2 linked regions of the Homo sapiens genome follow. The protein of the gene in region 1 purifies or fractionates together with the protein of each later gene. This does not show direct contact. Each region holds a gene or a part of one and is shown on either strand. Other genes may lie near its edges.

Region 1 (3,752 bases):
TACATGAAGGCCTAAGTGGCTCTTCCTCTACCCCCTTCCCACATGTAAATGGTGTATTTGGTGAAAGGCTGTCAAAGACCAAAAGAATGTAACCACCATTTGTCTCTTAACTACCCACACCTTTAAAAATTTGCTTCTTTCCCCAATATCCACCCTTTTCCCTTTAAATATTAAAACCCTCAAAATCATCTCTGGAGAAAGGCACAGACCTACCTCTAGGTCATGCATTCATAACCTTTGCCAAATAAACTTTCTAAATTGAGTAAGACCTGTCTCAGATACTTTTCAGTTTTACATCTCTGAGGGGAAGTCTGTCTTTCTAAATTAAGCCATTGTTCCTGAATATAAAAGGTATAGACATGTATCTGAATACATGGGATAGAGCCTCCCCAACTTTCAAACTTACGTATTTGATATAGTTTAAAGAAAAGACGTAAATAAATAGGTGTCTAAAACTGCAAGAATAAAATCTCTAGTCAATATTTTGGTTGGTTAGTCTTGCTCCTAAGTACCAACAAAGCTATTTAATAAAGCAATTGAAGCAATGATCAAGCAGACGCAGAGGAATAATTTGGCCATGAAACTTCACCCAGATGTACTGAGATTCTCCCCAGAAGTGTGTGTGTTGCCAGATTTATTCTACTCCAAGCTGGGTCTTGGAAAACCTTTCAAGGTGAATACTTCCTTTCTATAGGGTGGCATCCAGGAGTCTTCCTCTCTTAAAAAGTTATTCCAAATCTCCTGAAAGAAAAGGCTTTGCCTAATTCCACCTATATTTTCTCCTTCCTTCTGGGGTAATAATATCACTCAGATCCATTGTTCCTGAGGTTTTTCTTTAGACTGTGGCCTGTTACCTGGGCTACTCCAGACGTTCTGGGGTGTCTGGTAGTTTAGATGAACCACCACATTTCTACTCTTCACCTTCCTTAAAAAATGAACACCATAAAGTTTTAAATTAGATCAGACTTTGAAACATTATTTAACCACATTTCGAAGAGAATTTTGTTCAGGATGATTATTTTGGAAGTAACCTACAAAAGATGAAGGTTTGGAACAGTCTTTTATAGGAAAGAGAATGAAGTCCCAGGAACCTTTCCCTGGATTATCTTTATATTGAAGTTACTTTTAAAATAACAGTATGAAGGAAACTCTCAGTTGCTATTAACAATCTGAGTGTGTTTCCCCAACTTTATTTTTATCCTGAGTGAACTGTCTTTGAATTATTCTCACACAAAAAAGAACAAAAGAGGTAAATTTCTTTGTTTTTTTTTTTACCTCTTTGATAACAGCAGAACAATGAAAACATGTGACTCATAATAATTAAAGTACATCTGTGAATTAAACCATTCTTAAAGTTAAATTGTTAGAATCAATATTTGAAGTGAGTAAGCATATTTGTGCTCTGATGGAGAAGAATACATAAGATGTAGAAGAAAAATTAATACAGAACATATTTTCAGAGCAGATGATCTAAGGACTGGCGTTGACACACCATTTACACAGAATAGATGGTTCCTATATACATCATCTGGACTTAGTTGGTGCTCCTTGTGTTTAAAAGTGCTTATTTCATTGCAAATTTCTTGAGAAGGAGGGAGGAGGGAGGACGTATGTCAGTAAGAGCATTTGAGTCCTCTGAAGGTTTAAAAAGTACAGCTTTTCCAGTGTCTTCTCTTTCCTTTTCTAAGGACAGACTTGAGAATTCTCAGCTGACTGATGTGCAGCTCACATGGCTGTAGAGTGGCCTCCTATTTCCTTGCTTGAAAAGGATGTATACGTCAGAACAGGTACATCCTCTGCTTTCAAACCGACTGCAATGGCAGTTTGTTTATCTCATCCATTCAACTGCTTGAGTTGAATTCAGCCCACCCAGGGAGGTAGCAAATGGTGTGCTCCAGTCTCTGGTACTGTGATCAGATCCTGCACAATACTCCTGTGTTGTTGGAAAATGTCTAGGGTGCATCTGCAACATGCCTGATGGTTTTAAAATGTACTCTACAGAGGCCAAATAAAAGAAAGTTACATTGGTCTCAAAAAAGTAGCATTAACAATCTATGTTTCTGTTTTTTTGTTTTGTTTGTTTTATATTCTATCTTCCAAAGAGTCTCCTAGTTGGTACTCTTGGAATTTCACATATTTAAATCCTGACTTGAATTATTTTTCTTTACTGTGTTTCAGGTCTGGAGACACCATGAGAATAAGACTTGCCTTCAATAAAAGGCAATCAGTTCTTTAGAATAGAGAAAAGAGATTTGGCAGGAAATATATCAGCAATGTGTTTAAAACAAAGGTGGTTAGATTCCAATCATACTGGCCATAATTCAGAATAGCTTAAAACAAACCAATTTGTGAGGGCAACTTCAAATTATTGGGAAGAATCAGTTTTAGGCAAAAGGTAACCAAAGGGAAACCTGATTTCCCACCTTCTACTAGTTAATTAAAATGGTCTCTGTGGATAAGTTGCATGAACCAGGCTTATTTCTGAATAATGTCTTTTGTAGGTGTTTCATTAAAATGAAACAGGATAATCCACATTAAGCTACTCAGGCACAGACAGATGCATGTTAGCAAGCTAGGGTGGTTCAGAGGTTCCTCCTGGTCGCAAGCCGGAAATGTATAGCCATTTACTACTGGTCAAGGGGGTCAAAAAAGGCAAGGAAATTTGATACACAAGATGTTTTCACCTATTTTATATGTGAAAAATAAGTTTTATATAGTATTATGTAGCATTAGTTTTGTCTTCTGCATCACAAAGACGAAAGAACCAATTTTATTCACTGAAAAAGTGAGGCTGAGAAGAAAGAGTAAGTCAAGATTAATAATAAGGGGTGGGAAACAGAGACATCCTTTCAAATACATCAGACCTTTGGTAGAATAAAACTTCAGCATACTGGGATTTGTAACCGATGGAGCTTGCTTTAAAAAATACTCCACAGGCTGGGTATGGTGGATCAGGCCTGTAATCCCAGCATTTTGGGAGACTGAAGCAGGAAGATAGCTTGAGGCTAGGAGTTAGATGCTGCAGTGGGCTATAATCACACCACTTCACTCCAGCCTGGGCAACAGAGTGAGACCCCCCTCTCTCAAGAAAAATTCCTGTAAATTAAAACACACACAGGCATGCACCCCCTCCCCCCACCACACACATGCACACACCCACCCACCCACCCCATGCCCCCCCACACACACACACAGAGAGAGACAAAGAGAGAGAGAAACAGGGCTGATACTCAATTGATACACATACATATGACCACACTTGTCAAATAGACATACTTTTTTATTAGTGGATATATAATTACTATCTTAAGCATCCGGAGCATCTCCCACCCCTGTCCCCTTTAGGATTCCAAGGCTGTCCAGTAACTACAGGGTTAATATCTAGCTAGCTGGGCCTTTCTGCCCTGCTCCAGCATAAGGGTGCCAATTTTGATGGTTTGGATTACCCCACCCTGAAGATTGTTATTTATTTAGAAGATCACTCCTGATTTAACCAAAGAAATCAAAGAATGATGTATTCACTCCCCAAAACCCTTTTCAGTTCTCTGACGGATCATCACAGAACTCTTTTAAAGAACATTAGAAAATGGCTTCTGTAGGTGTACTTAAACGCAGACCCTTTCAGCAAACCATCTGGATGAATTAGGGAGGAAGTTCATTTGATTATCATTCTGAGCATTATAAATGTTGGATGAATTATCCGAATAATTACCTCATGATTCCTCTCCACTCTGGCTGGAAACCCAACTTAA
Region 2 (3,815 bases), about 58 Mb from region 1:
GCCCCACTGGCCTGCTGGAGCTGAAGCCCAGCTCCCCACTCATCCTCAAGGTGGGTCACCATTGCCCGTAGGCTGGGCCAAGCCAGGGAAGAGGCCCCTCGTCCTGGGCTCTGGCTCACCCCCATCTCCTACAGGGCCGGAACCTCTTGCCACCTGCACCCGGCAACTCCCGACTCAACTACACGGTGCTCATCGGCTCCACACCCTGTACCCTCACCGTGTCGGAGACGCAACTGCTGTGCGAGGCGCCCAACCTCACTGGGCAGCACAAGGTCACGGTGCGTCTGTCCACCGGGGGTGCAGAGCTGGGAGAGCCATGCCCCACCTGTGGACCCTGCCCCACTAGCACAGCCCCAGCTCTGACCTTGCCCGAGACTCACCCCTAGCTCAGAGGGCGCCCGGCTCCAGTGCAGGCCCTGCCGTAGCCTTCAGCCTGCCACCTCCTTGAGCCCCCCGAGACTGCCTACCCACCCTGAGCCCTTGCCATGCCAGTGGTGCCCTGGCTGGCCAGGCGCCTGCCCTGGGTCCCAGTGTCTCCACCCTGGTGACCACTCTGTGCCCCTGTCGGTGGGACCTTTCCCACAGGCAGGTGTTGGGGGTGGGTCTTGCCCATCGGGAGGGGCTCCCAAGCTTTGTGGAAAGCATGGGAAGCTCCTGAGTGGCCTCCACCCACTGGCAGGTGCGGGCAGGTGGCTTCGAGTTCTCGCCAGGGACACTGCAGGTGTACTCGGACAGCCTGCTGACGCTGCCTGCCATTGTGGGCATTGGCGGAGGCGGGGGTCTCCTGCTGCTGGTCATCGTGGCTGTGCTCATCGCCTACAAGCGCAAGTCACGAGATGCTGACCGCACACTCAAGCGGCTGCAGCTCCAGATGGACAACCTGGAGTCCCGCGTGGCCCTCGAATGCAAGGAAGGTCTGTTGGGGCCAGGGCTCACTGGGGCAACTGCCACCTCCGAGCCAGGCCCTGGCCTGTCCCCACACCTACTTCCCACCGCCGCCCCCACCCTGCTTCAGCTCAGTTTACAATGTTCCTGATAGCCTTGCTGTGCCAGAGCTGGTCCCAGGGCAGTGGGCGGGTGCCTGACCAGGGCCTGGCCCTGCAGCAGGTACCACCTCCTTGGGGTGCTGCTTGCGACACAGAACCCAAAGCCAGACTGTTTGCATTTGTATCCCAGCTGGGCTATAAGGCTGAAGGTGGCTACTTACCCTTCTGTGGCTCAGTCTTGTCGTCTCTAGAGTGGGCACAATGACAGTGCCTACTTTCCCTGGGTGCTGGGAGTCGTGGTGGGTTGGCTGGTGCCAGCGGAGCAGCAGAGAGGGGTGCTTCCACCATGCAGCAATGGGGAGCCCTTGCGCTTTGGCAGTCCCTGGGCACATAGAGATCTTGGCCTGAGCTGACCTTTGTCCTTGAGATGTCTATAGGGGGAGTCATGCCACACCATGCTCCTGATCAGGGCAGGTGTGAGTGGCAGAAATCTGTTCCATGCCGGGCGAGACTTTGAGCGTTTGCAGATAGTAACTCACACATGTTCAGGGCTCTAGGGGGCAGATACTAGGAGTGTTCCTGCTGCAGTGTAGGACCTTAGCCATGTGGTCCAGCATGGGGTTGTCATGAATTCCACTGGGACTCAACTGGGATGGGGTGTTTTGTTTGCACAGGACTCAGCCAGTCTTAAAATGCAAAGTTCTGCATCCTGGGAGCCCTCTCAGTCCCAGACAAACCTAAGTGGCCCTGTGGTGGGCTGAGGGTCACCCTACCTCTTGGGCAGCCCTGGTGGGACTGGAGGCAGGTGTGTGTTGGGGCCAGGTGGGAGGCAGGTGGCCTGGACCTCCCTTGTGCTCCCGCCTGCTGAGGCTGGCTGTCTGGCGAGGCTGGCGTGTGTGGATGCAGTGGCTGGTGGCTGCTCCAGGCCAGCCAGGTGCAGATAACTAGACGCCTGGCAGCGATGCCCAGGAGACGAAGACTCCAGCTCTTAATTAAACCTGTCAGATGTCCCCCAGAGCCTGCCTGGCACTCCTTTGGCTTCTGATCAGATAGCCTGATCCTCGGGCTGCCACAGGACTGACACCTCACAGCTCTGGAATGTTCTGTCAGGGCCTGCCTGCCTTTGTTCCTGACAGAGGCAGAGCTGGCCCTGAGCAGGGTGGGCCATGTTGAGGGTGCACCAGGCCCGAGATGTGCATGCAATGGTGTGGGGGCTTGGGGACAGCCTGCAGCCCTGGGACCTCACCCCTGGCCGCACTCCACCACCTCACAGCGGGTGGAAGGAGCCCGAACTCCAAAGCTGCTCTACGCTTAACTGCCAGTGTCTGAGATGCAGGAGGCCCTGCCCAGCCTGCCCCTGGTGCTGATGCTTTCTCTGCCCTTGTCTTGCTTGATCCTGTGGGAACCTTGCAGAGGAGAGTTACTATCCCTGTGCTAGGGCTGTAGTAGCTGGGGGACGAAGAGGCACAGTAGTTTCCTTAAGATCACGAAACCAGTAAGTGTCAGAGCCAGGATTTGATGTAGGCCCCAAGAGTGGGAGGGTTGGGGCATGGAGCGGGGCCACCAGGGCATGCTGCCCCTGACGCCGCATCTGGCCACAGCCTTTGCAGAGCTGCAGACAGACATCCACGAGCTGACCAATGACCTGGACGGTGCCGGCATCCCCTTCCTTGACTACCGGACATATGCCATGCGGGTGCTCTTTCCTGGGATCGAGGACCACCCTGTGCTCAAGGAGATGGAGGTAGGACCACTGGCTCCGGGGGGTCACAGGAACTCAGAGGCAGCTGCTATCTTCTGCCTTTGAGGCTCCTTGGGTGCTGATGGATGGTATGGGGCAGCCTGTGTGGCCTGGGGGAGGGTCCAGGCCTGCAGGGCTCTGGGCTCAGCCAAGTGGGGAGCAGGTGCTGGGAGGCAGAACCAAGACCAGGCAAGCACAGTGGAGCCCTGAGCCCTGGGGTTGGGGCAGGGGAATGGCCAGCACGGCTCTGCTCCATAAAGTACCTCCAGAGGGCAGGAGGAGGCTCTGGCCCCAGGGCCTCCGTGGGATGCCAGGCCTCATCCCAGCAAACCACTTGTCAGCCTGGGCTTCTGGCACCTCCCCGGTGGCTGCCCCTTGGGCCCTGCCTCTGTTGGGGGTCCCGCCTGCGGCTCCACTGGCCTGGTCTCCTGGGTGGCTCTGGATGCGAAGCCTCGCTGGGCAGGGGCCGTGTGCTGGGAGGTGCGGGTGCCTGATGAAGTCTGCTATGGCGGTTTGGGAGGGGAGCATGTGGCTGGCATAGCACCAGGGTCTCAGAGAGTAGGGCTTTGCCCCGTAGACCTTGGCAGCGAGCCTGGCGAGGGAAAAGAGGGCTGGCTCCCACACCCCTAAAAGGCCCCCAGCGGCAGGCAGGCTAGGAGCCAGTCCTTGGCGAGCCACGGCCAGGGGCTCGGCAGGTTAGCTCAGTCACACTCTCCAGCTGAGGGCACCCCCCAACCGTGTGCCTTGGATGTTGGGGAGCCCATGTCCCTTGTGGTGACTCTGTTGGTGGGAAGTCCCTTTTGAGCTGATACTGAGCAGACCTTCCCGCCTTGGGCCCTGGGCTGCCTGTGGCTGAGTGCTGCCATCCTGTTCCTGGGCTTGCTGCCACACGGGGCTACACAGCCTCCCCAGGTTGTATCTCTCTTTCAGTGCCTCCATTTGCTGTGTCTGTCACACTGTCTCTCTCAGCTGTGACTGTGTATGTTCTGCCTGGGCCATTACCTGTCTGCCTGATACCTGTTGGCCTTGGCTGGGAGCCTGGTATCACTGGTGGCCTCTGGGCTCTGCCTAATAGGGAACATATTGCC

Evidence for each region.
Region 2: the proteins of TAFA1 (region 1) and PLXNA1 purify together in Homo sapiens (affinity purification with mass spectrometry; one large-scale study listed by BioGRID and IntAct). This does not show direct contact.

Annotation. Positions count from the first base shown.
Region 1 is NC_000003.12:68,539,108-68,542,859, reverse strand, and holds part of TAFA1 (chemokine-like protein TAFA-1 isoform 1 precursor), read right to left. Parts: intron 1-3,752.
Region 2 is NC_000003.12:127,017,615-127,021,429, forward strand, and holds part of PLXNA1 (plexin-A1 precursor), read left to right. Parts: coding exon 1-50; intron 51-134; coding exon 135-278; intron 279-679; coding exon 680-914; intron 915-2,587; coding exon 2,588-2,730; intron 2,731-3,815. UniProt on the Homo sapiens protein: Coreceptor for SEMA3A, SEMA3C, SEMA3F and SEMA6D. Necessary for signaling by class 3 semaphorins and subsequent remodeling of the cytoskeleton. Plays a role in axon guidance, invasive growth and cell migration.